Linked DNA regions of Homo sapiens: regions 1, 2, 4 and 5 are each linked to region 3. The links come from fine-mapping of genetic effects on gene expression. A gene starts in region 3. Each other region holds a variant in brackets. All regions are shown on one strand. Distances are from middle to middle.

Evidence for each region. PIP is the estimated chance that this variant, and not a neighbour inherited with it, causes the effect. A credible set is the group of variants that fine-mapping cannot tell apart.
Region 1: its variant is the best candidate, but not a certain one, in a credible set for the expression of HPGD in transverse colon (CEDAR, PIP 0.73).
Region 2: its variant is the best candidate, but not a certain one, in a credible set for the expression of HPGD in whole blood (TOPMed, PIP 0.56).
Region 4: its variant is the best candidate, but not a certain one, in a credible set for the expression of HPGD in whole blood (TOPMed, PIP 0.56).
Region 5: its variant is the best candidate, but not a certain one, in a credible set for the expression of HPGD in whole blood (TOPMed, PIP 0.65).

What each region holds. Positions count from the first base shown.
Region 1 is chr4:174,496,774-174,502,393 of GRCh38, reverse strand. The region is part of intron 4 of HPGD (15-hydroxyprostaglandin dehydrogenase); the gene reads left to right. Among named protein-coding and RNA genes, the nearest start is that of HPGD, 23 kb to the left of the region's middle. The variant C/T (reference allele first, on the strand shown) is at 2,245.
Region 2 is chr4:174,604,519-174,610,782 of GRCh38, reverse strand. LOC105377549 (a long non-coding RNA gene) reads right to left here and starts at 686. Exons shown (of 4, transcript XR_939492.3): 1 at 480-686. The variant A/C (reference allele first, on the strand shown) is at 3,537.
Region 3 is chr4:174,518,995-174,524,500 of GRCh38, reverse strand. HPGD (15-hydroxyprostaglandin dehydrogenase) reads left to right here and starts at 2,013. Exons shown (of 7, transcript NM_000860.6): 1 at 2,013-2,142; 2 at 2,434-2,557. The coding sequence starts at 2,050. LOC105377548 (a long non-coding RNA gene) reads right to left here and starts at 1,888. Exons shown (of 7, transcript XR_007058492.1): 1 at 1,372-1,888; 2 at 1,080-1,116. RefSeq lists an enhancer at 4,674-5,203.
Region 4 is chr4:174,611,082-174,617,345 of GRCh38, reverse strand. LOC105377549 (a long non-coding RNA gene) reads right to left here. Exons shown (of 4, transcript XR_939492.3): 2 at 5,336-5,455; 3 at 5,102-5,197; 4 at 2,849-3,390. Among named protein-coding and RNA genes, the nearest start is that of HPGD, 92 kb to the right of the region's middle. RefSeq lists a silencer at 3,322-3,522. The variant CTCTA/A (reference allele first, on the strand shown) is at 3,203.
Region 5 is chr4:174,487,791-174,494,054 of GRCh38, reverse strand. HPGD (15-hydroxyprostaglandin dehydrogenase) reads left to right here. Exons shown (of 7, transcript NM_000860.6): 6 at 741-904; 7 at 1,961-3,880. The coding sequence ends at 2,099. Among named protein-coding and RNA genes, the nearest start is that of HPGD, 32 kb to the left of the region's middle. The variant T/C (reference allele first, on the strand shown) is at 3,253.

The DNA.
Region 1 (5,620 bases), 22 kb after region 3:
TGTGTCACTTTTTAATGTCGTGTCACACTCTAAAGCATAACTTAATGGCACCCATAAGAATGAGAAAAAAAACAGCCATCAGATAAGGTGTTCCATTATGCGGAAAATCACAAATGAGGAAGTTCACCAGTTACTTTGGTCAGGTGTATGCACGAATCGTAGATAAATATTTCTTGCTAGTTCTCCCTTTTTTCTTCAAGTTGGAGAAGTGGTGGTTAAAACAGACAGACGGGTACACATTTTTTTGTTGTTGTTGGTTGTAAAGAAAATGTGACAGCTTTAGATTCCTGCTTTTTTAGCGTAGTTACAGAACTCCAGGTTATCATACGAGTATCAGCATCCTTAGATTCACCATTTATTTCCCTAAGTTGAATTTTCAGCATTTTTATATAGTCCATTCTACATGGTTTCTCTCTCCTTAAAAGCAAATCTTGTTTGCGGATTTAGTATGACTGCCCTGTCTGAGGAGGTTTCTGTTTTTGCAAAAAAATCTTTTTGAGCTTTTTTACCTTCTGTGAAATGATTAAAACTGGCTTTTGTAAATATGGGTAGAAAGATTATGAAGAATAGAAGAACTAATGTAGAGATGGAATTTACATTTTTTTTTCTGAATGACTTTCTTTGTTCTATTAGTACACATGTAATTTTCAGATATTTTAAATGCTTTCAGGTATTTTAAGTGCTATATATATTATTTCGTCAGTCTAATTGTTTAGTGTTATTATCCTGAGTGGTTTTAGAAAATATTTCTTTGTTTTGTGGGTAGAATTTCTCCCTCTACTGATTTTTTTTTCTGTAACTTTACAGTTGTGACAGACATAAATCTGCTACTAATTATACTTGGTATATTTTAAAAAGAGCCATTGTGTATTTCTATAAATAAACTTGCACAATGGTGGGCCTATCAGAGGTACTGAAAAATACTGTTCTTAACTATTTTAATATAAGGTATCTATTTTTAAGCACACAGGATTTCTCACAATGTTAAACAAAATGCCATTTCTTTAAAAGCAGAGACTGCTCTCACATGGTCACAATCCTTTGTTTTATTGTTGTTGCTATTCTTAAATCCCTTAATGTTGTGACAGAATATTTCCATGTGCTCCCTAATTTTGAGAATTAATTTGCAAGATTAAAAAAAACCCATATTAGTTATAGTAACTGGTCCTATAGTCATTATACTGGTATCTGGCTCTTCAACCGGTAAAATTCCACCTTCGTCCTGCAACAGGGGTCCTCCCATTGGTTTTACACACTTCAATTGAGTATATTTAAAATATTACTTCATTATACTTTGCATTTAAAAGGAACTAAACACATAGTTCTTATGTGAATTTACTTCTGTAGAGCCTGTTGATTTAAGATTAGAAACAGTCCAGTTTGCCAAGGTTCAGAAATCAAACCAAGTTAGGACACTATACCAGATTTGTGGCATTTTAGTGCAAAAGATACATTTTCATTAAAAAGTACAATGTGGATGAACCGATAAATAGGTCAATAAAATAATTATTTGAGGTTTCATCTGGTTTACTCTTGATGTTGTACAATCTGTAGGCTTGAACAAAGGTATAATAACATATATCTACCACTATAATATCAAACAGAGTGGTTTACTACCCTAAAAACCCTGTTCTCCACCTGTTCATCCCTTCCTCCCACCACCTCCTGGTAACCACTGATCTTTCAACTGTCTCCATAGTTTTGCCTTTTCCAGATGTCATATAGTTGGAATCATACAGTATGTAGCCTTTTCAGGTTGGCTTCTTTCACTTAGTAATATGCATTTACGTTTCCTCCATATCTTTTCATGGCTTGATAGCCCTTTGTTAGAGTTGAATATTATTCCATTATCTGAATATACCACAGTTTATTTGTTCATTCAACTACTAAAGGACACTAGGTTGCTTCCAAGTTTTGGCAATTAATAAAGCTGCTATAAGCATCCACACACAGATTTTTGTGCAAGCATGTTTTCAGTTCTTTGAGTAAATGCCAAGGAACTAAATGTTGGATTGTATTGCATGTTTACTTTTGAAAGAAATTGCTAAATTGTCTTCCAAAGTGGCTGTGCCATTTTGCATTCGCACCAGCAATGAATTGGAGTTCTTGTTTCTTGACATATTCATCAGTATTTGGTGTCTTCAGCATTTAAATTTTAGCCATTCTAATGTGTGTAGTAGAATCTCATTGTTGTTTTAATTTGAAATTTCCTATAACATCTGATATTTATCATATTTTCTTTTT[C/T]GTTTGTTGTTTGAGACAGAGTCTCACTGTGTTGCCCAGGCTGAGCACCCACTATAGTTTAAGGAGAGAAAACTGCTAGGAAATATTACAAGAAGTAACCCAAGGCTCCCTCTCTAGAGTTCAAGGCAGAGTAAGAGGTCTTGGCTTGAGATAAGTATTTTAAATTTGAGTGTGTGTGTGTGTGTGTGTCATACAAAGATTGAGAGAGACAAATTGAGAGAATTAATTTTTATCCTCAGGAGTGAATAAAATCATGTAGGGAAAGAGTGTTCATAGAAAAGCAAAGAGGACCAGGTATATCTCTGGAGTTTTCCAGCATGTTTATGGGTCTAGTCAAGGAAGAGGAGCCAGCCAAAGACATGAAGAAGAAGCTGCCAGTGAATGTGAGATAGGAGACCAGCCTGGAGGAGGAAATGTTTCAAGGAAAGCATGGCTGTGCTAGTTGCTGCTGAGGAAGGGATCAAGGAAAATGAGACAGAGATTTAGCCTTAGCAAACCATTGCTCATTGGCAGCCTCCATAAGATCTGTTTGACTGGAGTGATCAGATGAAAGCCTGATGGGAATGAGTTGTAGAGCAAATAGGAGGTCAAGAAAGTGGAGACAATGCAAGGCATATAATAACTCTTCTGAGGACTTTCCATTGAAAAGAGAAACAAGGTGGTAGCTGGAGAAAAAATAAGTATTATTTTTAGATGGGTAATAACTGAGATATGTTTATATCTCAGAGTGATTCTGTTTCTGCAGTTGATATCAGTGACCATTTTAAGTCTCTTAAAATACTTTCATCCGTAATTTCTGTTACACAACACTTAATTGCTTCTCTTCCTACCTGGGCTGGTTTATTCTGTCCTTTTGCTCAGTCACCTACTCTCCAAGAGATGACTACCATGTATAGTTGTGCAGGTTGTAAATGGTAGGAACATAAGCGGCACAGTTTACACCAACTACCTTGTAAATTGTGTCTCCAGAGTCATACCGTGCACACTTAGTCTAACTCTATGAGCTGACCCTTATTACCAGCCCCAGAACACAATTTTTATTTGAAGCACATGGAAACAAATTCTATGTTGGTGTTGTGGGCCTACAGTAAGTAGTGGAAGCGTGGTTAACCAATCCTGAAGCTACACCACAGTAGCAATAATACTATACCTACAGAAGAAAAATGAATCAGATGCAGTAGAAAATGTTGGATTCCTAAAAAATGTCCACCCCCAACTAAAATCATTGTCAAAAATAATAAAACAACAAGAGCTTTTCTCCCTCCATTTAGGCTTCATTTTCAAAGCAACAAACTGAAGTATAGGTAGTAAATTTCTACATTGAGAGTCAGTTTGCAAGTTGGAGAGAAAGCACTGCAAATCCACCCTGCCTGTTCAAAACATAAGAAGCACCAGTTAAAATCTACCTATATTAGGGAAAAAAAGAAAAAAAAACTTCAATTAACAACTTGACTAAATGAAACAATTGAAAAAAATAGAATGTTCCTTACACATTACAACATGGATGAATCTCAAAACAGCTATCCTGAGTGAAAAGTCAGACAACAATATAATTTATACTATATGATTACATTATATAAATTTTAGAAAATGCAAAGTATAGTAACACAAAGCAGATCAGTGGTTGCCTGTGGGGAGGAGAGGGGCAGCAGAAAGGGATTACCAAGGGGCACAAGGAAACTTTTAGGGTGATGGACATGTTCATTATCTTGACTGGTCATGGTTTCATTGGTATATACATATGTCAAAACTTATCAAACTGTATACTTTCAATACGTGCAGTTTTATTGTATGTCAATTAGATCTCCATGAAGCTGTAAAAAAAAAATGAAAAAAGGAAACTTGGTTTCTGAATGTCTGAAATTGATTTGTGTAGGTTTTCATCTAATACTAAAAAGTGAGGGGCCAGTGCTGTGGCTCAGGCCTGTAATCCCAGCACTTTGGGAGGCCAAGGCAGGTGCATTGCTTGAGCTCAGTAGTTCAAGATCAGCTAGGCAACATGGTGAAATCCTATCTCTACCAAACATACAAAAATTAGCTGGGCGTGGTGGCTAATGCCTGCAGTCCCAGCTACTCAGGAGGCTGAGATGGGAGGATTGCTTGAGCCAAGTAGGTCAAGGCTTCAGTAAGCCATGGTCCTGCCACTGCACTCCAGCCTGGGCAATAGAGCTAGACTCTGTCTCAAAAGAGAGAGAAGGGGGCAGAAAGGAAGGGAGGGAAGGTATGGGGCGGGGGGAAGAGAGAGAGAGAGAGAAAGAGAGAGAGAGAAAGTGAGGCCGGCCATGGTGGCTCATGCCTGTAATCCCAGCACTTTGGGAGGCCAAGGCAGGTGGATCATGAGGTCAGGAAATCAAGACCATCCTGGCCAACATGGTGAAACCCCATCTCTACTAAAAATACAAAAATTAGCTGGGCACCGTGGCGCATACCTGTAGTTCCAGCTACTTGGGAGGCTGAGGCAGGAGAATCCCTTGAATCCAGGAGGCAGAAGTTGAAGTGAACAGAGATCAGGCCACTGCACTCCAGTCTGTTGATAGAGCGAGACTCTGTCTCAAAAAAAAAAAAAAAAAAAAAAAAAAAAGAAAGAAAAAGAAAGAAAAGAAAGTGAAAGCAATGCAAGGGTAAACATTTTGCAGAATAGCAGTGAAAATGTGATTAGAATGTTACAAGATTCATAAAACCAACTGCCATTTAAAAACTGCAAGCAATTTCTTTCACATTCCAGTTGCATTTACGAATCCACCTTTAAGGAAAGTATGTATGTTGTCTTTGCTTATTACCAGAACCCACAAAGCAGTATATTTCTTTCGCCTCTATGACACCTTGAACTAGCTGGGGTTCCAAAGTTCATCATCTCTGCATATGTAACAAAAATTCATTTCAAATTCATCTTTGACAACTCTTATGAACAATGTCTTTGTAGTTCTTGCGGCTGTGTGAACTAGTTTATCTCTGATTAAGGTTCATGCTGCATTTCCTGCTATATATGAACATTGTCCTGAAACCACTGCCTTTGTCTCATAAACATTTAAGGAATGGGTAAAGCAGGGACTAACAAGAACCAGAAGCAGCAACTCCTGGTTATACTTTTTTATTCCCTTTATCTTCCACTCCTAGTATACCTATGTAGCCTGTGGAAACATCATAAATTCTTGTTGACTGACACTGACAAACTTAATTAACTTACACATTTTACTTAACAACAACAATGACAACAAGAGAAGCAACATATTAACAATACTTTGAAATCATTGGGTGGACACACTAGGTGTGATCTACCATCCTCAGGGATTTAAACTGCCCTTGTGCAAACATACTTTATAAATTGAAACCTGGCAGGCACCCAGGGAGTGGTTATGGTCTGCATTTATTGCTG
Region 2 (6,264 bases), 86 kb before region 3:
AAAATACATAATTTATAATTTGATTTTGGAAAGTTTGTCAAATATCAAAGGTTTAAAACACTTGATATCACAAAATAGGATCACAAGTCAATGTAAAATAAATCATTCATTTAACCAAAATGGTAATTGAAGGATTTCAAAAAATGGCAAAAACCTTCATTCTTTGAAAGAGGAGACTTAATTTTTCAGCCAATAAGCCCCAATAAAAACAGCATGAATTCAATTATATTTGTTTTCCAATATTTTATAAACAATCTATAAAATTTTCATCTTGACCCATAAGATACAACTTCCCTTTTATAGCCTTTATAGCTTTTATTAAGGAGTTAATTCATGCTTCAAGAAAACCTTGTTACTCTGACACAGGGGCCTATATGCTGGTCTTTCATCAGTGTGCATTTGATGTTAATAGTTAATTTATAGAGAAAATGAATTTACTTTATCTCTCAAAATTGGCCTTTACATTCTCGCCTGCCCACCTCTTCCATGATAATCCCTTGGCCTTGAGGAGTTGAATAGCTTTAATTTCTGCCCCTGTGTCTCAGGAACACAGTTTATTTTGATTGGCATCTTCTACAGGGCCTGCAGATGAGGCTTTAATTGCTGTCAGAGTTTGAGATTTGGCAGTACTTGGTGTCCTTTTGAGACTCAGGAGTCAAATCCTTGTAGCTCAATGTCACAAGAACCTTAAAGGCACATACAGAAAGATACAAGGATATAACAACTTTAATTTTTAAAAAAATTTCATCTGTTTTTTTTTTTAGGCAAACCAAAACTTAATAATAATGGCATAGGAATTACTTTGATTAAACATAAAATCTATTAGGCCAGTTATCAAAAGACAGAGGAAAAGACCTGCAGTGCACAGAATATTATGTTGAAAGAAAACGTTTCCTTTAGGCCTTTAACAAAACATTGTTAGGCCAGGCATAGTGGCTGATGCCTGTAATCCCAGCACTTTAGGAGACAGAGGCGGGCAGATCATCTAAGGTAAGAGTTTGAAACCAGGCATGTCAATATGACAAAACCCTGTCTCTACTAAAAATACAAAAATTAGCTGGGCGTGGTGGAAAATGCCTGTAATCCCTGCTACTCAGGAGGCTGAGGCAGTAGAATTGCTTGAATCTGGGAGGTGGAGATTTCAGTGAATCTAGATCTCACCACTGCACTCCATCCAGCCTGGGCTACAGAGCAAGACACAGTCTCAAAAAAAAAAAAAAAAAAGAGAAAGAAAACGTTGCTAGCATCAGCCCACAGCGAATAGAACTTGAAGGAATAAAAACTTTTATGATCTGAAAATAAGTTGAAGAAGAGCATTACTATTTCGCACTTTCTAAAAGAGAAGAGAAAACAGAAAACATCAAGAAACAATACAAGTTGAACTTTGGGTTTAAAACAAATTAAAATCTCTTATAATTCATTAAGAGTAAATCAATCCTTTAAGAAAATTTTATTGTTCTAATCAATTCTTTTGTGTATAAGTGTTTTTATCATCAAATTTAATCTCTAGAAAGACCACTATAAATCCCTTTAATTATAGACAACTTGATCATATTAACTTTTTTTGGGTTTTGTTTGTTTGTTTGTTTTTTAGACAGAATGTTTTCCTACAATATATTTTTATTGGAAAATACCCAAATAATGAAATATATATTATTTAATTTAATATAAATTTTGATTCTAAATTATGACAAGTTTGTTTACAAGTGTTTATCCCATTACATTTACCTAATTATTTTATTTTAATCATTTACCAAGATTATGAAAACTGTGATAGGCATCATTTAAAGTTATGAAACTCCCCATTGCAAAATTATAACTGAGACATTAAAAAAGATATGACCTCACTGACTCCATCTTGCTGCTAACCTCCAAGCTGTCCTTGTTCATTCTTGGGCATAGGCTGAACTAACTTTGGAAGGAACTTAGTTTATAGTTTAGCTTTGAAAAAAGATGGTAACAGTCCTCTTACAAACAAACCTCCTTATTGCCTGTGGTCTGGACTGCCTAAAGCCAGAAGATTATGGGTTGTGGTAATTTTATTAAATAATTTGAGATGTAGCTATTTTCATTAAACCAATATCAATATCTTATCTATTAAAAATTACACAAGAAAGATCATTCCATTTTGGGCTGTGTTTATAGTTTTATAAACCCTATGCCAAATTTTGACACCTTATAGTATTTGGCAGGGATAAGTATGCAATTGCTTGATAATAATTTTTAAGACATTTCTAATACTACTTTACTAATAATTTTAAGCTACCTTATTTATTAAAGATTTTACTTAAGTCACATAAAATTGAAAAAGCATTTGACTAGTCTTTCCTTTTTCTCCGATGAAGTATTTGATTTAAGGACTTTTATTTTTCTTGAAGCCAATTAATAAGAGCTCTTTTATATATTTTAGTAGTGAAATATTGTGTAGAGAACACACAAATACATAGATGTGTTAGGCATAATGATAAAAATACACTTTATGAATTCCTACGACCTCCTTTTTTTTTCCGTATCTTAGACTTGCAAACTCTTGATAAACTGATTCATTATCCTGGCAGTTGTCAGGTAAACAGCCCTAAATTTGCATATTGAAGGAAACAACTCTTAGATTAAAAATCAGATTAGCAAAATTTACATCTCAAGGTACAGAGAAAAAAGGTCTGGTGATGCTACAGGGAGATTAAAGATAGATGCTAAATCAAACATAAAATTGTAGAAATCTATCACAGGATTGCATGAGGAGAACAATTTTATTTAGATAGGGACTATCTATCTTCTAACTGGATCTCTGAACTCTGGGCAGAGTCCACACTGAATCCTGGATCTCTAAAAAGGGAGAATTATTATGAAGCTAGACCTCGTGATGCTTTTACAGTGCACTTTAAAAAAATTTTTTTAAACAAAAACATTTGTTTAAACTTCACTTTCTTAAAAACCCAAGTATAGCCTATGTTGCAATAACTATTTTAGTCAAAAAATCAGGTAACACAAGTATCTAAACTTTACTTCCTTAAAAACCCAAGAGTAACCTCTATTGCAATAATTATTTTAGTCAAAAAATCCGGTAACATAATACAAAAGCAAGCAGTTTAAGAGCTGAGATGAACTTGTCTGTTTGGAAAACACTCTTGGAGTTCCATAAGTAAAAACAGTGGTTTTTCCCCAAAAGAGAGTCTGGCACCTTCTCCATTTTCCTTAAGGAACCCCAGGCTATTATAAACTATTTTAGGTCCCTCATGCAGCACAGGGTGCAAGAGAAAGGAGAGACAGCAGAAGTAAATGAAGGAAACATAATTCAGTCAAATGAGATGAAAAAGACAAAGTCCTAAGAGAAAAAAAAAAAAACAAAACACACACGCACACAAAATAAAAAAGGTGAAGGCCTTTTAAATACAAAAACACACACATGCAGACATACGCACACACATTTTGGATGTTAGTTTTTAATTAAGCTGACTTTTAACCACTGAGCTCCTTCAAAAAAAATGTTTTAATCTATTTACCATATTTCAGCTCGGACAAATTGCTGCTGTTTC[A/C]GAAGTGCCAAGTATCCAAACAGAAAGGGCTTGATTTAGGCACCAAACCCAGGCTGTCATGGTGGAAAAATAGAAGGCAGAACTCTTAGCTATGGAACTGCAGCATGGGGCAACAGCCATTGCTCTTTCAGTTTGGCCTGGCTAGCAAAAAGGTGGTATTGCTATGTAAATAAAGCCCCTCGAGTAATCAAAAGCAGAATCTCTCCTTTCTGTTTTCCTTTTGCTGTATGTTTTTCTCCCCCCGCCCCCGACCACACCACCTTGTTGTTGTCATTGTTTTCTTATGGGAATTTAGCCACTTCAGAGGCCTTGTTCCTCATAATTTGGAACTTTCCTTTGTATTTGATCAAGTCAGAGTTGATCAAACCCAATGGAGAAAATATGGAAATAACAACAAAAACAGAAACAAGCAAACAACAACAACAAAAATTAAGCAAAACAAACAATGGCGCAACTTGTAAGATTACGGAGTGTGTTAATGGTAAGGTGAAATTAAGATCAGCTGGTTTGTCTTGGCTAAAATCTTAACTTTAGCCAAGACAAACACCAATTCAGTTACTCACCCAGGGATAGGTCTCAGACTTAAGACTGCTCTCTACCATCCTAGAAGCAGGAAAATCTCAAATTTGTCTTTCCTCTTGGAAGTGAGTTCAAACTCCATACAGGAGTTACCTGCCTTCCATTGTCATGGAAGCAGGAAAAACTTGCCTTCCTTGTTTTGGAAACAAGTAAAACTCCAAGAAAAAAAAAAAAGAGTTGTACAGCAATAAACTTTAGATCTTGACCAAATATTGGAAGATCAGGGATGCTCTGGAGGGAGCACTTCCAGGCCTCAGCAAATTGTCCTATTGGTTAGACCCACAAAGATAGCTCAAGCTGGTACCAAGCACCAATAGGAGATTTGTCAAAGGTCAGGGGCACCTTCACTCAGAATCCCTTCGTGGTTACCAAAATGTGAACTGCAAATATCTGAGACAGGTCTCAGTTAATTTAGAAAGTTTATTTTGCCAAGGTTGAGGATGCATGCCCATGACACAGACTCAGGAGGTCCTGATGACTTGTGCCCAAGGTGGTCAGGGCACAGCTTGGTTTTATACATTTTAGGGAGACATGAGACATCAATCAACATATGTAAGATGTACATTGGTTCCATCTGGAAAGGTGGGACAACTCAAGCAGAGAAGGGGCTTCCATTCATAGGTAGGTGAGAGACAAACAGCTGAATTCTTTTGAGTTTCTGATTAGCCTTTAAAAAGGAGGCAATCAGATATGCATTTATCTCAGTGAGCAGAGGGATAACTTGAATAGAATGGGAGGCAGGTTTGCCCTAAGCAGTTCCCAGCTTGACTTTCCCCTTTAGCTTAGTGATTTGGGGGCCCCAAGATTTATTTTCCTTTCACAGAATCCTAGCAATTATCCACTGGCACATCTGACTTTTAGCATAATTAAAGAGGGGAGCAGTGAGACTGTGGGCACGCACTAGGCTACAGTGGCAGTGACTGGCAAAGCCTGCACTAACCCCTGGGCCGTCTCACTTTCTCAGTACCACATTACTTTTTATTCATATATTTTACTGTAGGCCCAGTGGAGAGTAAGATGGAAACACTGAAAAGTCACTGAAAAGTACTAGCTTTGGGAAACTGGCTGTTGAAGCTCTGAATGAGCAGAGACACTAGGCCCTGAAGAGAAAGTTAAAGGAGGATAGCCGATTCCACACAGGGCACATATGATATGTTTTCTGAAGAAAGAAAGTTAATATGTCGATTTTTCTGTAGGACTTAAGAGTCTGGAGCTTGAGAGAAGTGTAAATTAAAGATATATATTTGAAGAACACTAAGCTTATAGAATAACAAGCTTTATACACCATCTGGCCTATAAAGCCACAAGAGTGGAAAAGATTGCTCAAAATCAACAATCCTTTTTACATTAAAATAATATGAGCAGATCAGATTTTAAAATATTAATTTTACTAGATATACAATTGTGGGCTGGGAAATATCAAAATAGTTTCAGGAATACCAATAAGTATGCCTTTAATATCAAAAATTAAATTCAATAGTTACTGAAAACCACCAGTAGAATAAGTGAGTTCAGATGAATATTTAAAGTCATATCTTTGGATTCCCACAAAAAAACATGTAGTTTTCTATCAGCGACTTCTAACACTTTATGGTACATGTCTTCTTTTTTTTTTTTTTTTTGAGATGGAGTCTTGCTCTATTGGCAGGCTGGAGTGCAGTGGCGCAATCTCGGCTCACTGCAACCTCCGCCTCCTGGATTCAAGCAATTCTCCTGCCTCAGCCTCCTGAGTAGCTGGGACTACAGGTGCGCACCACCATGCCCGGCTAATTTTTGTATTTTTAATAGAGACGGGGTTTCACCATGTTGGCCAGGATGGTCTCCATGTCTTGACCTCATGATCCGCCCTCCTCAGCCTCCCAAAGTGCTGGGATTACAGGCGTGAGCCACTGCGCCCAGCTGGTACATGTCTATTTTTATTTTATAGTTCCTAGCCTACTATTTCAAGGAATGCAAGTTAGGAATTCAATTCAATAAACATTAATTCAACTGCTAGTATTTGCCAAGTATTGGAATACAAGATAAAAAGTATAGCAGCTGTATATAAGCCTTCTTTGTTTCATGAACTAATTTTTTGTGTGTCTACTAGTTTCTAGACACTGTCCTGGCATTAATATAATAGTAAATAAGAGAAACCCAACCTTCAAGT
Region 3 (5,506 bases):
TCCTTGTGCCTCACCTATCCGCCACCGCCAAACTGCTTCCTGTTCTTCCAGTTGTCACTATCCTTGACTCATTGCACTTTGACCTCAATCAATCTTCTTATCTTTTCTTAAAAGAAAAACATGTTTGCTGTCTAATCTTTTCAACTATTATCCAGTCCATTTCTCTTTCCATGTAACCTTGGTCTTCAGTCCATGACAATATCTATCTTCTCACAGATCATTTCAGCTGTTCAGTTTTTGTGCCTTCTAAATTTACTCACACTAAATATTGTCCTGAAAAATTCAAAATATTTCTCCATCCTTTATTCCCTGGTGCTCACCTGAGTATTTTGCATTATTAACTACTTCTTTCTTCTTGAAAGTATTTCTCCCACAAGAGCTGCAAACCTGTGTTCTCCCAGCATGTTGCCATTTTACCCCAGCAGTTCCTTTTCTGTCTTTTTTGCCAGTTCCTTCATCAGAAACTTCTATGTTCTGTGCATGCCATTAGAGGAGCTGAAGTTTTGTTTGGTTCCTTGTTTTCTTTTTGTCTTCTACTATTATTCCCTTTCAATATGACCCCTCAATTTACTCTTCATATTACAATTTTAATTATCATCCTAGAGTACAAATATCTATTTTCCTGTTTTAATTTCTCAAGATTTTGTCAAGACCTAATTTCAAATTAATGTTAAAGACATTTGCTTAGCGGCTTACCAACAACGCGACAAGACACATTTTACACAGTCTCCTCATACACTCCTTCCCTGCTGAGCCAGCCACCTTTCCCAGTAAAGAAGGTAAAGAAGATATAAAAATGATTCATTCTGCTGTTAGTGTCAGTCTTTTGCTCAACTCCCATTTCCCCCAAGTATTTAGATTTTTTTTTTCTTTAAGAAAATAAATGCCAGCTGGGCATAGTGGCTCATGCCTGTAATCTTAGCACTCTTTGGGAGTCCAAGGTGGGAGGGTCGCTTGAGCCCTGGAGATTGAGGTTGCAGCGAGCTGGGATTATGCCACTGCATTCTAGCCAAACAGACAGAGCGAGATCTTGTCTCAAGATTAAAAAAAAAAAAAAAAAAAAAAAGCCAACCACTTACGTTTACAGAATTAAAATTGCAGCCTGCCGCTGACAACCTGAGAAAAAGAGACAAAGTCAGTGGAATAGCCCTTGTTATTTATGCAAGTCCGCATACAGCTAGCCCTGGAGTTCCTGGAGAGCAAGGAACCTCTGTCCCAAACTTGACTCAGAGCTTCCAAAGTTGGTGTATTTCAACAAGTAAGCATTCCATTGAGCCAACAATTTGGTAGGCTACCAGCGGCTCTGGAGCGCCTGTTGATGATGACAGTTTTTGTGGGGGCATCTCAATATGACACACAATTGACACTGACCAGAAACACAGCGCCAAGGACACTCTAGTCCTAGCCATGAAATGTTATGATTCCAGGTTTTCAGGACAGAGCAGAGTCCACTTCTCATCTCCAGTATCCGTAAAAATTTGTCCAAAATGTAACTAAGAAAACACAATGATATTAGTTACTTCTGCTCCCCGTCACCCTCAACCCCACTGATTACGAGATGGGAACTCACACAAAACTTTGAGACAAAAGAGCAACAAGTTTGCTTTATTGTTTGCTTGTTTTGTTCCGGAGTCGGGGCCGGGAGGGAGTGCAGGAGGAGGGATCCAAGCTTCCAAGCCTCTGCTCCGCTCTCCTTCTATCCAGTTGGTCTTTAGGGCACTGAAGGAAACTCTTCTTCAGAAATAACCTTTTAACTTTTCTTCTGTCAGCTGCCTGCCAATCACGGAGCCAGAGGCTGAGGGGAGGCTTTGAGCCGGTCTGCGAGTCCGGAAGGCAAAGATCGCGAAGCTTGGCGCTCCAGAACGCTCAGGGGGCAGGTGACACAGTCGTGGGTTCCCCGGCGGGCGCTGGCTTGACAGTTTCCTCCCCGCCCACTGGCAGGGGAGCGCCCCGCCGGGCTGCACGCGCGCGCGCGCAGGGGGGCATAAAAGCCGCGGCCGCGCGGAGACGCGGAGCTCGCCCACCGCCCGCCCCAGCAGTGGCTGCACCATGCACGTGAACGGCAAAGTGGCGCTGGTGACCGGCGCGGCTCAGGGCATAGGCAGAGCCTTTGCAGAGGCGCTGCTGCTTAAGGGCGCCAAGGTAAGCCCGGCGCCCAGCCGCGGAAATTTCTCTGCCCACACACTCCGAGACTCGCCCCGCCGCCCGAGGTGCACTGGCGGAGACAGGGAGGCCGCGCCCGGCGTGCCCACTTTGCCACTTCCAAAATTTGCTGAAGCTGAGGCTGTGAGCACACCTCAGAAGTGGCTGGGAGGGAACCCAAACCTAATTGCCAAATTTCAGGTCCAGGAGGGGAGCCTCTTGTGTGTTTATTGTTTGTCCGTCTATTTCGTGAGCTGCGCAGGCCCGCGATTCCTCTCCTCTTGTCTATAGGTAGCGCTGGTGGATTGGAATCTTGAAGCAGGTGTACAGTGTAAAGCTGCCCTGGATGAGCAGTTTGAACCTCAGAAGACTCTGTTCATCCAGTGCGATGTGGCTGACCAGCAACAACTGAGAGGTAAGACAGGGGAATCAATCTGTCAACTGGGAACGTGCTCTCAACAAGCAACAACCTGAAGGCAGCCCGGCCAGGGGGCCCTGGGTGCCGCCTCCGCTGCCTCCTCGAGAGCAGCTACCTTGAAGCTCCAAAAGACAGTTTGGACTGATACGTTTCCTTCTGACAGCCCAATAGCTGTAAAACCGAAAGAAAGGCAAGACTGCTGGAGAAATCCTTTTATTGTAGTCATTTGGCAGCATTAATGTAATCAAAATTCCTTTATGTATTCAAAGACAGTGCTGCTGCAGTAATTATTAAATGATTGAAATTGCAGACAAAACTTGGAAAATTAAAGTAGGTTAAGTAAGGTACTGTTGACAAACAACTTCTCCCAGAAAGCTGGAGTCCAATGACAATCAAATGTGGCAGTGTTTTTCGTTTAAACATATCAGAATACAAGTTCAAGGAGCATCATCACAGAAGTGCTAGATGCTTTTGACCATATGTTTTCTCCGGCTTTTTCCCCAATGAGACAGTACTTTAAAATAATAATAATAGTAATCATAATAAAGTATACAATGTTAGAATTGTAGTAGAAACATCTCTATCAGCCTTTCCTCAATGCTTTCCTGTTTCCGGCTACTCACTTAAAATAGACCAATCTACTTGTGAAGTATCAGGGACAATATTGGCATACACAATAAACAGCTTTGATTATAAAGCTGTTTTTTTTTTTTTTGTACATCTATTGGAGAACTTGAGAGTGCCCCAATAAACTTACAGGAAACAAAAATTCTGGAGAAAAACTAGAAAAGTAAAATATTTGTATTTCACAAAGTTTTATTCAAAGAGACTGAGTAAATTGTAAGGCACTTTTTAATCAAGGGGTCTGAAAACTTTTGCAAATCTTATTCCAGTGCTCCTGTTCTTAAAGGGACATCAAATGTACATTTATTTTAAAATTTTAAAATATTCTGTAAGAGAATGAAAATGAACTGACGTGTTAGAAGGAAGTGGTGTACCAACAGTTAAGAGAAATTGTAAAGGAAATTACATAACTGAAATCTGAAAATGCTAATAAAGACCTATAACACAGATGACAAGCATGAGCAGAACAGATTTGTAAACACAATGCAAGAGGAACATATTGTACCAGAGGACAATTATGTTGATTGCACATGATATTTTGGATCAAGGATAGAGCCAGGTCAGATCTCAACATTCATGCTGATGGCATAAGGAACAGTATAAACAATCTGAAAGCCATTTCTGTCTCAATTTATATAGTTTCATAAATGACATTTAACTACAATTGTTTTTTTCCCAGTATTTAAAATTAATACCTTGGCTATAAACTCATTCCTTAAGGATAAATGATTGTGGAGGAGGAAAAATACTCAGACACATAAGTGACCCGGGAAGGCATGTTGGTCATGAGAAATCCACATGTTGTCTGGACATGAGCATTTGCTTGCATCTAAAGGAAACATGACATTGATTCTTCCAGTTTCAGGATTTAATGTTGCCTATAACTTTTAAAATTGTTTAGACAGTGTGGAAATTATAAAAATATGAGATGAAAAGTTTCTTGGAGATAATCTAAACATAACTTATTTTCCAAATGAACAAATCACAGCCAAGAGAGTTTAGGTAAGTTACAAAGAGTACCATAGCATATAAATGTCAGCAAGAGGTAGACTGTCTGTTGCTTGAGCCTGGAATTCAATGGGATGTCAGAAAACAAGATGGTATACTATACATTGGTAAGGGCAGAGTATAAGGAATACGGTGGAGAACAGAATGAGGAAAGAAAATTAAAGCGGCAATTAGACATACATATTTAACACCCTCATTTTCCAAAAGGTGAAGGTTGTTTCTGTGGAGTTATGAAGAGTTAGAACATACTCAGAATGGAAGGAGAAAAAAAAAATACTGGGGGACATTTTCTGGACCCAATTTGAGATTTTAAGAAACATTTTTAAGATTCCATGAAAAAAGGCCGGGTGCAGTGGCTTCACGCTTGTAATCCCAGCAGTTTGGGAGGCCGAGGCGGGCGGATCACGAGGTCAGGAGATCGAGACTTTCACTCGCGTCTGTGTGAAGAGACCACCAAACAGGCTTTGTGTGAGCAACAAGGCTGTTTATTTCACCTGGGTGCAGGCTGGCTGAGTCGGAAAAGAGAGTCAGCAAAGGGAAATAGGGGTGGGGCTATTTTATAAGATTTGGGTAGGTAAAGGAAAAAGGGGGGTTGCCCGCTGGTGGGCAGCAGTGGGGGTCACAAGGTGCTCAGTGGTGGAGCTTTTTGAGCCAGGATGAGCCAGGAGATGGAATTTCACAAGGTAATGTCATCAGTTAAGGCAAGGACCGGCCATTTTCACTTCTTTTGTGGTGGAATGTCATCAGTTAAGGCAGGAACAGGCCATTTAAGTATCACTACTTTTGTGATTCTTCAGTTACTTCAGGCCATGTGGATGTATATGTGCAGGTCACAGGGGATATAATGGCTTAGCTTGGGCTCAGAGGCCTGACAGAGATCATCCTGGCTAACACGGTGAAACCCCGTCTCTACTAAAAATACAAAAAATTAGCCGGGCGTGGTGGTGGGCGCCTGTAGTCCCAGCTACTCTGGAGGCTGAGGCAGGAGAATGGCGTGAACCCGGGAGGTGGAGCTTGCAGTGAGCTGAGATCAGGCCACTGCACTCCAGCCTGGGGGACAGAACGAGGCTCCGACTCAAAAAAAAAAAAATCCATGAAAAATAAACAGTTTGTGTTTGTTGTTCTTCCATTCCCGTACAGTGAGTGTAAAAGGTACATATTAGGAAATCTTGAAAATGTTTTTAGTAAACAACTAGCATAGTAATTTATCTATATGGCAACTGATTAATCCATGTCTTCCCCAATATGTCTGGTGGTTGTTAATGATTATATGAATTTATTTCAATCAAAATAAAGCTTATGCTGACCTACTTT
Region 4 (6,264 bases), 92 kb before region 3:
AAGTGGCAGAGATAGAATTTGTTTGTTTGTCTCTTTGTTTATTTATTTATTTATTTATTGAGACAGAGTCTTGCTTTGTTACCCAGGCTAGAGTGTAGTGGCACAATCTCAGCTCACTGTAACCTCCACCTCCCGGGTTCAAATGCTTCTCCTGCCTCCGTCTCCTGTGTAGCTGGGATTACAGGCGTGCACCACCATGCCTAGCTATTTTTTTTATTTTTAGTATAGTCACAATTTCACCATGTTGGCAAGGCTGGTCTCAAACTCCTGACCTCAAGTGATGGGCCCACCTCAGCCTCCCAAATGGCAGAGATAGAATTTAAACCAAATAAACAACATGTATGAAAATGTATTAATAATTAATACTTATAAAAGGCAAGGTGTAGCTACGACCAGAAAAAGAGAACTTTGACATTATGTGTAAAAATCAGCCTAAAGACTTCATTCATTCAAGTTCACGGTGAGTCATAGCTCTTCCAGGCTGCAAGTAGATCTAATTGGCAACTGACTTCTTAAAAAAGAGAAGCAAAAAGACAATTTTCAACTTTTTCTTGTCAACTCATTTCAAAAGGAAGTTAAGGTTATCATATTCAATATCACCGTCTCTTAGTACAAACTGGAATGTTATTTTTCCCTGTTATGGATTCCTGATATTTTCAGTTAAGTTTATTTATTTAATTCCTCCCATACAGCATACATCACTCTCTATCCTGGAGATGCAACAGTAAACAAGGAAAGCAGTGTCCCTTCTGTCATGGAGTTTATATTCTAGTACAGGAAGCATAAATTAATAAATTACAAATCAGGATTCATGACATAATAGTTTATAAGAGCTTAGATACAGAATTTAAAAATGGGCTTGTCAGGAAAGATGTCTTTAAGCAAATTTAGTGGATTTCGTATGCTTTGCTCTATCCAGCTGCATCTCATGGATCCGTGAACTATTTGTTCTCAGTGCTTAGAAAATTTTGGTAAGACTTGGTCAAGGGGCCTACTCTGCCTACCACAGAGAGAGAATTATGAGTCCTTTCTCCTCAACAGTGATTAGTTTGAGGATGAGCACATAGCCAAGCAAGGCCAACCAGGGAGGAAGCTTAACTTTAAGTAGGAAGAAGTTCCCATCCTAATAGAGTTGCTTAGCTTGTAAGAAGTGGGCTGCTATCAAATTTGCAACTTAGAGGGAATTTGTTCAAGAATTTAGAAAGAAATGGAGCCATCAATACCAAATACAATTGTGATGACAGCAAGAATCTACTTCTGCACATTTTAGTTTGAGGCTAATAAATTTCCCTTAAATTGTTTTAGCTAGTTTGTGTTTGGTTCTTTTATCACTATACTGAAAGAATCAACAATTTTTCACGGTTGGCACGGAATCTTTGGTATGATTAATGTGAAGGAAACAGTTCTATGAGGACTATGGACAAAATAACATTCCTGGCAGAGAAATGGGCATCAGAAAATTTCTCAAGGTGGAAAATAATATTATATGTTCTAGAAACAACTGCATAATCCATTAAGAGAAGGCAACAAACAATGGTCACTACCACTATTAAAAAATCAACATTGCGCTGAAATTTCCTTGCCAATAAAAGAAAAAAGTAAAAGAAATTAAGGATAGCAGGGTAAAAAAAGAAGAGACATAACTGTTATATGTAAACATTTGTCTACATAAACAAATTCAAAAATATGTATAGACAACCTGTTAGAGTTTAGCAGGAGCTCTGCAGAGAGATCAATATAGTCAATGATGCTTTTGCACAACATCAATAACCTATTAGAGAATATAATAATATAAAAGATTCTATTTGTGATACCAGCAATAAACATAGAGTTCCTAGGAACAAAACATGCAAAATGATGTACAAAACTGCTATTCAGAAAATTACAGAATCTAACAGATGGACATAAAACAAAGTGAATATATCTTGAGAAAGGCATAATTAATAAGTAGGAAGATTCACTGTTGTAAATATTTCTATTTCCTCTCAAATTTACCTAGAAGTTGAACGTGATTCCAATGAGAATATTCAGAAAACTTTTCACGATGCTACATAAGTGAATTAGAAAAATAGAAGTCCAAGAACACCCCAGAAAATTTGGAAACCCAGCCAGGCCATTCAAGTCAAATAGCTCTTCTTCAGTATCCTGCTCAAAGGGTGCTCTACCACTAAGAGCACTACAGTGTCCCAAGGGCTCCTGAGTCATACAGAATCCAAGGCTTCACCCAGGCTTACGGAATTAGATATATTAACAAAAATCCCCAAGTAAGCTACGTTTGCAAGAAAGTTTTCAAAGCAATCACCTAGTGTTCATCATTGTACCTTCTCTTTATAGATCTGACCTTTTTGACCTTTGATTATAAATTAAGGCACAGGCTTTTAGGCTCAAAATCCCAAGATTTAGATAACATGGTTTGTGTTAATTCTATAAGATTTGTTTAATATGGTCAAGAACTGATCTAAATGTTCCAGATGCATTTTCTTTATATAAAAAGGTGAGAAGAGTGAAAATCTGTCTCAAAAACAAAAAAGAAACACACACACACACACGAAGAGGCAGGCAGATCACAAGGTCAGGAGTTTGAGGCCAGCCTGGCCAACATAGTGAAACCCCATCTCTACTAAAAATACGAAAACAATTAGCTGGGCGTGGTGGCAGGCACCTGTAATCCCAGCTACTTGGGAGGCTGAGGCAGGAGAATCACTTGAACCTGGGAGGCAGAGGTTGCAGTGAGCTGAGATTGTGCCACTGCACTCCAGCCTGGGCGACAGTGCGAGACTCTATCAAACACACACACACACACACACACACACACACACAAGAAATATTATCCCAAATTAGTCATGTATACGTTGCATCCTACCATATTTAATTAAGGAATGCTATTTTATCTATTCTCTCTCCATAAGTCACTTCTCAAATGACATACAGAGAAATAAATGAGTAACGTCATAGGTTATACATGCAGGTAAAATAGGGAAGTAGTGAGTGCTCTCTAATACTTCAGTAGTAATATTGCCTTTTCTTTCTTTGCTCAATTTAGTGTTTAATTTTTGTGGTTGGCTTTCTTGTTCTTTTTTATGGTAGCAACACGCAAGCCTTTACTGGTTTTGAAGTTTACCCTGCTAAAATTCTTCCTGTAAATACAGGAACTTCCCTCTCTATTACAGTTCCTGTAAATACAGGAACTGTTAACTTCCCT[CTCTA/A]TTATCAGAAGATCAAGATCCTGAGACATTTATTTGTTCCTTCCATCATCATAGCATTACCAGTGTATCAGAGTAATAGTCATAGAACAGAACAAATGTACTTTTTCTCCTTTGTATTTCCTTTTACCAACTTCATCTGTATTCCATGGAAGTCATTCCTTTGCCTTAAGGTGGCTTCAGATTCCTAGTAAAGAATGTGAAGGTAAATAGAATGAATATTCGGGCTTCAGATACAGGAGACTTTCGAGACTACAATAAGATTATAGACTTAAATAAAAAGCTTTGTCAAAAGAAGGATGTTCTAAATGCTTTAGGAGCCCAATAATATAACAAGGACAGAAATGGTCTAATTGTTAAGATTTCAGTAAGCCACGGATATTTATAAACCAATGGAGGGTGGAAGAATATGCTTCCCCTACCCCCAATATACCTCTTTGATATAAGGATTTTTTTCATATAAAGGCACTTGATAAACAGCAGAAGCAAAAGGACATTCTAATCTTCTCTTTTCTTCCTAAAAACAGGAGATAAAAACTGCCATGTAAAAAATGCCCTCTCTGTACCAGGAGAAAAAAATATTTGACAGAGAATCATAGCCAAGAGAATTCTGTACAAACAGACTTTGTTAAAATAATTCTTATCTTTCATTAGCCTCCCCACATAATTTAGTTACTTTTCCAGAATTGCTGCTCTTTGTTAAACCTGATAATATGGTTTAGATGTTTTTTTCCACTCCAAGTCTCATGATGTAATGTGATCCTCAGTGTGGGAGGTGGGGTTTGGTGGGAGGTGTTTGAGTGGATCCCTCATGAATGGTGATATGGGTTGGCTGTGTCTACCCCCAGATCTCATCTTGAATTGTAGCTCCCATAATTCCCTTGTGTTGTGGAAGGGACCAAGTGGGAGATATTTGAATCATGGGGGCAGTTTCTCCCATACTGTTCTCATGGTATTGAATAAGTCTCACAAGATCTGATGGTTTTATAAGGGGAAACTCCTTTCTCTTGGCTCTCATTCTCTTCTGCTGTCTGCCACCATGTGAGATGTGCCTTTCACCTTCTGTCATGATAGTAAGGCCTCACCAGCCATGTGGAACTGTGAGTCCATTAAACCTCTTTCTTTTGTAAAATGCCCAGTCTTGGGTATGTCTTTATCAGCAGTGTGAAAACGGACTGGTAATAGACTGGTAATGTACAGTAATGGACTGGTACCAGTAGAGTGGGGCACTGCTGAAAAGATACCAAAAAATGTGGAATTGACTTTGAAACGGGGTAATAGGCAGGGGTTGGAACAGTCTGGAGGGCTCATAAGAAGATAGGAAAATGTGGGAAAGTTTGGAATTTCCTAGAGACATGTTGAATAGCTTCACCCAAAATGCTGATAATGATATGGACAATAAAGACCAGGCTGAGGTGGTCTCAGATGGAAATGAGGAAATGTTGGGAACTGGAGCAAAAGTGACTCTTGTTATGTTTTAGCAAAGGTACTGGCAGCATTTTACCCCTGCCCTAGAGATTTGTGGAACTTTGAACTTGAGAGAGATGATTTAGGGTACCTGGTGGAAGAAATTTCTAAGCAGCAAAGCATTCAAGAGATGACTTGGATGCTGTTAAAGGCATTCAGTTTTAAAAGGGAAACAGAGCATAAAAGTTCAGAAAATTTGCAGCCTGAAAATGCGATAGAAAAGAAAATCCCATTTTCTGAGGAGAAATTCAAGCCAGCTGCAGAAATTCGCTAAAGTAGTGAGGAGCCAAATGTTAATCCCCATGACAACGGGGAAAATGTCTCCAGGGCATGTCAGAGGTTTTCACTACAGCCCCTCTCATCCCAGGCCCTGAGGCCCCAAGATAACTTGGGGCTCCTGGGCCTGTCAGAAAGTGGCATTCTTTACTTACCACTGGTCAGGAACCCTGTACAGGAACTGTGTAGACAAGGTATGAGGCCAGTTTTCCCAAGGGATTTTTATTTGCTCTATAAGTCCAGTTTGATTCCTTAAAGGAAAGCACACCATTTCAGTCAAAACCTTGGTAAAATAACCAGTTTCTATAATTGTGTCCTGTTACAATTGAAAACAGATTTTTCTTGCACTTATGCAAATAACTATATTGCCATAAATAAAGAATACTCACAAGTAGTTTCCAAATTCTGGAGAAATCAGGTAGAGAGAAACAAATATGTTCCAAATTTTGTTCATAGGAGTATAGTAACTTGTTAAAAGATGTCAATAGCTCAAAAAAATTTCCTTGGCTCTGAAAAACAAAACGAAGGATCAAGAACATTTTAAGAAAAAAGTCAAAAAGATTAGTTCAGTCTTCTGTTAGTTCAGTTCATGCAGGTAATTCCTGTTCTGCATGATATTCATGAACATTTCAGCTCTCTGTGAGACCTGAAAGTTTTTCCTCTATTCTGATGTCACAATCTCCATAGTTATCAGAAACCTGCATTCGAGAGAACCTGTTAGGGCTTTATAGGTGATTATAAAACCAGCTTCTAATGAGGACCAAAGGCTGGGTGTAGTGGCTCACACCTGTAATCCTAGCCCTTTGGGAGGCCAAGGTGGGTAGAGCACCTGACGTCAGGAGTTCGAGACCAGCCTGGCCAACATGGTGAAACCCCATCTCTACAATAAATACAAAAATTAGCCAAGCATGATGGCAAGTGCCTATAATCTCAGCTACTCAGGAGGCTGAGGCAAAAGAATCACTTGAACCCAGGAAGTGGAGGTTGCAGTGAGCCAAGATTGCACCATTGCACTCCAGCCTCGGCAACAAGAGCAAAATTCCATCTTAAAAAAAAAAAAAAAAAGCAATTGTCCATTGTGATGGTTAATACTGAATGCTCACTTGATTGAATTGAAGGATACAAAGTATTGATCCTAGGAATATCTCCTTGCTCCTTAGCCTGCAGATGGCCTATTGTGGGACCTTGTGATGGTGTGAGTTAAGACTTACCATAAGTTAGTTAAGTATTAACATACATGCATATATATATTCCATTAGTTCTGTCCCTCTAGAGAACCTTGACTAATACATCTATGGATGACAAAATGTTTTAGAGA
Region 5 (6,264 bases), 31 kb after region 3:
GCACAAAATTAGAAAAACATGGCACGACAGAGTATAGTCTTACTTGACCTCAGCAGGAACATGCACATCGGTGACTCAAATTTCTCACTGCCCTGTGCATGTCCACAAATAACTACAAATGCTCCACAAGTATTGATTTCCAGGGTTACAAGTAAATTTTAGCAAGCAAATTTAACAAATTTGTTTATATGTAATCCATGAATAATGAGAATTGACTAATTTTTTAATAATTGCAAATAAAATCAATAGTTTGTAAATTAAGCCAAATAATGTTAGTCTGAAAATACTTAAATTGTCTTCCAGATAGGACAGATTATTAAGAGTGTCTTTAGAATCAAAGTTCTAAACATTTTCACTAAAAGTCTTTTTAATTAAGTATTATTTGTTATACAACCACCATATTTGAAATAACACTTGGGATATCGATTCTAAGTCTCAGCTACTTAGCTTCAGGCTCCTGCAGAGTTCAGTAGATAAGAGAAGCTTACATAATTGTTTCCAGGAGTTGTCCAGTAATACTGATTTTTAAAAAAAATTAATTAGGTGAGATTTTCAGGAATTAATACAATACTTTATGTATGTGTTATTTTACTATCTATTTACCAGTCATTGTTACATAGCTGGGAGGATATCTAATTAGTATTTTTTACATCAGAAAATTGTAAGATGCTTTAATGATCAGTTTGTCCTGTGCTATATGTTTATGAAACTGCTGAAACCTACAACCTTCTAATTGGCAGTTGGCTGCTAATCTTATGAACAGTGGTGTGAGACTGAATGCCATTTGTCCAGGCTTTGTTAACACAGCCATCCTTGAATCAATTGAAAAAGAAGAAAACATGGGACAATATATAGAATATAAGGATCATATCAAGGATATGATTAAATACTATGGAATTTTGGAGTAAGTAAAACTATGTCTATTTTCTTTTAAATGATGAAGCAAAGCATTATTTAGATAAGCTATAAAAAGGGAAGAAATAAGCTTATACAGTTGAGAAATGAACACAAGCTTCAAACTTTTGGTTTGGCAAACTCTCTGGGAGAAAATATATTTTTCTGGGTTTATAAATAGAATGTAAGTTTATACATTATGAATGTTACTTTGAAATATGTAAAATGCTTCATTACTACCATCAGTCATAAAGTTGATATTTAGTCACCTTTGAAGGCAATGATACCTTCTCTGCCTAAATTCCAAGCAATATTCAAATATAGTCTGTGAAATATTGCAAGTTTCCATGACTTCAACCACTTTTATAAGAAATAGTTGATACACACACATACATGGACACATACTTTCTCAGTGAATTATGTCTGAATTCAAGCAACTGAGGATTTCATGAATCATAGTTATCATGTTGAAGGAATCAGACCTGAGATCAAATCTTGGCTCTACCACTAACCATGAACTTACCCATCATACCTCTAGATGCTTCAATTTTCTCACATATAAAATAGAGATAATACAACAGACTTAGGGACTTTGAAAAACTTAAATAAAATGATACATACAAGGTACTTAAAATGGTAACTGGTAAAAAATAAAATTTTCAGTAAATGCTAGCTGTTACCAATCATATTTCTACACTAATAACATCTATATCTGGTAAGTCTAAGATCTACTGATACGATAAAGATGAGAAAATGATCATTTGCTCAGTGAAAATAATGAGTATAAATTCCTCCTGCCAAAATGATGGAAGGTTACAGCTAAATTTATCAAATAATTTAGTTAATATCCAATTGAAAGAAATCTAATTGAATAAATTAGATAAATAAGATATCTAATCTAGATATCTAATATGGAATTAAATAAAAATTGGAAGTAGCAATAGTTTAATGACACACATTTCCCTATAACATGTTCAACTTAATAGATTCTTCAGAAAATAACTTAAAATGAAGTGGTAATATGCCTCATTCTTTCGTTTCAAAATACTGTTTTCTTTATTTTTAGCCCACCATTGATTGCCAATGGATTGATAACACTCATTGAAGATGATGCTTTAAATGGTGCTATTATGAAGATCACAACTTCTAAGGGAATTCATTTTCAAGACTATGATACAACTCCATTTCAAGCAAAAACCCAATGAACAGCTTATGTGTTAGCCATAGCTGAAAATAAGCACAAATAGCTTATATTCAGATCCTATCTTCATTTGAATATAGCTTTTAAATGAAATGTTACAGTTTGAAGTTTTCCTTCATGCACTTGGTGATAAACGTTTTCTAAATTTTTAGTTAAGTATATGGATAAAAAGTTATGAACTATTAAAAATGTGATGTGGACCAAAGGCTAGGTTGTAATCTTGATAGTCTAAAAAATGATCAAAACAAATGATTTTCAAGGAATATTCAATATTCTGCCTTTCAGAAAGTGTATTTATATCTGTGCTTCATAAATATTAATGTTCTTCAGAACATCATTTTAAAGGAGATACTTGAATTGTTATTTAAATCAAACCAGATGTAAAACACTCACATACAAGTTCATACTTTAAAAGAGGAAAGCTACTTAACAATGACAAATATTTCACAATAATAATTTTTACTTATATACCATCTTTCAACTGAACATTTCAGTTCTTCCAAGAGCTTCTTAGAGTAGTATATTTTGGGGGCAGTCAAGGAATAAACTACAGTGTAAACATATCCCAGATGAAAACTGCTGTATGGAAAAATGACAGAAAGTAACTGATTGACACTGTTGATTCACAGTTCAGCCTCCTATCTGGGAAAGACATTTCTTTCCTCTGCTCACTTTAAGAACTTTTACCGACTCCAAAAATCTCAGGAATTAAACTTTTAACAGTTACAGCAATAAAGAATAGTTAGTACTCCAAAAATATTATATTTAAGATGCTCAACAAGAAAAAAATGCAAATGTAATATTTTTTTCAAATTACTTCTTTATTGACTTGTCCAAATTTCAAAAGTGCCTACCCTTCAATAAAACTTTTTTATTCTGATCTCCATAAATTACTTAGTCTTCTATGTATAGCTATCAAGGAAATAAAACCAATTTTGCCACAGCCACAACTGTAAATGTTTTTGTACCCATGCTGAAACTCATAACAACACAGACATAAAAATAGCTGTGAGGTTTTGCTTTTTTTGTTGTCAGCTATCTTAAGAATCATTAAATACACCTGCTTTGGGTAAAACTCTTTGCAAGCAGTAATTAACACTAGTAACAGTGAAAGCACAAGATTTCCAAATCAGTCGTTTTCTCAAAAAAATATCGTA[T/C]AAGTGACTCATCCTGTCTGCTAACTCCAGACCTCCCAGCTTGAAGCCAAATCTTTCCATGTGAGATTGATATGGATTTCCTAGAAGTACTGGAATGTTGTCATATCTTGCCCTATTTTAATTCTGCTATAGAAAACAATTGCCTTCACTTTTAAGGAGTAATTTGAATATTAATAACTCTGGTCTAGATTTTCATATAATGTATTAAAGACAAAGTAGTGAACATCAATGAACATCTGATAGAGATAAACTGTAATCAGGCATAAGCTTGTTTGTATGTTCTGGCAGTGACTAATCAGTAAATGATGTCGGTTTGCCCAGTATCACTTATCTTCTGTATTTTTCCTCTGTCGTGTAAATAGTATAACCTTTTCATTTATGGACAATTTTTTGGACTAGTAGCCTTCAATATACATTCTGCTTTGAATTAATTTTTTCAAATCAATAAATTATGTAGACATTTAAAATCAAATATCAAGTAGAATTGAAAAATGTGAGTTACATAAGTTAAAAACTTACTTTAAATCTTACCTTCTATAGGTAGCTCTAAATAAATTCATATGGTTATATGGCATCTCTGGTGTATACTGATTGAGAAAATAATTAAACTGAAGTTAGGGGAGGGGGACCTTGGTTTCTTGTATTTTTCAGTGAATATCCTAATGTAAATGGTATATATATTTTTCCAATGTGTTTTTCTTAGTAAAATGAAGTTGGTACTTCTCAGAACAGCAACACTAGAAATACGTAGACATTGAGAAAAAGATCAAGACTTGATAATGCATTGAAATGTCCTACAAATTTTATTTTCTCATGTAAAAATGAATTTAGACACTTGTAATATCATTTAACATTCAAGTGATTATATGACAATTTCTCCTTACTTTTGCTCTCTATAAATTTAGCATACTGAAGAGATCTGAGAATGCAAATTTTGAAAAAAATTCAAGGTATTTCACATACTAAACATCATCAGATGGTTTTTCTTAAATTAGAATTTCAAAAGGGAAATTTACTGGTGCATAGGAAAAGGTGATTGGATCCAGGGTCACAGTTGCTGCCATAAGGTCTCCATCTCCTTTTCTCTTGTTAGCGTCCCTTCTAGGCAGCTCTTTCACATGATCACTTCCCGGATCTACAGGCCTGATTCCCAGCAGCTTGCAGTCCACCAAAACAAGAACTGATTTGGCCTTGCCTAGGTTATATGCCCACTACTGAGACAGTCCTTGTGGTCAGAGAGATAGCTACTCTGCCTGCCCAGAAGGAGATGGCATGCCTCCCCAGAGCTGGCAGAATTATGGGGTGGGAGGGAGACAGGAGAGGTGGGCAGGGCATTGACATGAGTCCTATGGACTAAAACAAGGAGAAGGAAAATTTCCAAAAGGAAAATTATGCTGTCATTACCAGAAAGTAGGTGAATGCATGCTGAGGTGACAGAAACAATAGCCACTGTATGTAGAGAAAGACAGAGTGATAAAAGATGAGTTATGTCTTAATCCTTTGGATAAGTTTGCATACTATCTTGGTTCCTATAACATGCCTAGATCCATGTTTTCAAAGTGTGTGAAAAACTGAATCACTCTGGATAGGATATGATAAAAGAGGAGACAATGAATGGAAAATACAGGAGGCATCTCATGCATATATGATTGTACTCATTCTTGATATAAAATATATTTCTCATTGTGAAACACAGTGAAAAAGGTTCAAAAGCTACTTGATTTAATATTGACTGCAAAACTGCAATCATTGCCTCTAGACTTGCTTTGTTTTTGAGATTCTGAATATATGACCACCTTAATTCTACCATTACATTCAAGCTTATTAGCCTCCCTTCCTTCTTTCTTTCCTTTTCTTTTCTTTCTTTCCTCCTTTCTTTCCTTTTCTTTTCTTTCTTTCCTTTCTCTCTTTCATTTCTGTCTTTCATTTCCCTTCATTCCTTCCTTCCCTTCCTTCCTTCCCTCCCTCCCTCCCTCCCTCCCTCCCTTCCTTCCTTCTTTCCTTCTTTTTTTCTGAGACAAAGTCTCACTTTGTCACTCAGGCTGGAGTGCAGTGGCATGATGCGGCTCACTGCAGTCTCAACTTCCTGAGCTCAAGTGATCCTCTGGCCGCAGCCTCCCAAGTAGCTAGGATCACAGGCATGCGCCACCATGCCTGGCTAGTTTTTGTGTATTTTTAAAAATCCTCCTGCCTTGGTATTAGTACCATTTCTAATTCTTCTTACTAAAATCTCATTGTCAGCATATAATTACTTTCATGCGCGTCCGTGTGAAGAGACCACCAAACAGGCTTTGTGTGAGCAACATGGCTGTTTATTTCACCTCGGTGCAGGTGGGCTGAATCCGAAAAGAGAGTCAGCGAAGGGAGATAGGGGTGGGGCCGTTTTATAGGATTTGGGAAGGTAATGGAAAATTACAGTCAAAGGGGGTTGTTCTCTGGTGGGCAGGGGTGGATCTCACAAAGTACATTCTCAAGGGTGGGGAGAATTACAAAGAACCTTCTTAAGGGTGGGGGAGATTACGAAGTACATTGATCAGTTAGGGTGGGGCAGGAACAAATCACAATGGTGGAATGTCATCAGTTAAGGCTGGTTTTACTTCTTTTGTGGATCTTCAGTTACTTCAGGCCATCTGGATGTATACGTGCAAGTCACAGGGGATGCGATGGCCTGGCCTGGGCTCAGAGGCCTGACAATTACATTAAATTTTACAAGATTTCTAAGGTTATCTTTGAACTATGAAACTCTTTTCCCCACAGTTTTCAAGTAATATTTCCACACATAACATTCACTCATTCAACAAATAACAATTGGCTGGCTGCGGTGGCTTCTGCCTGTAATCCCAGTGCTTTGGGAGGCTGAGGCAAGTGGATCACTTGAGGCAAGAAGTTCGAGACCAGTCTGCCCAACATGGTGAAACCTTGTCTCTACTAAAAAACAAACAAACAAACACATACGGAAATTAGCTGCATGTGGTGGCAGGTGCCTGTAATCCCAGCTTTTCAGGAGGCTGA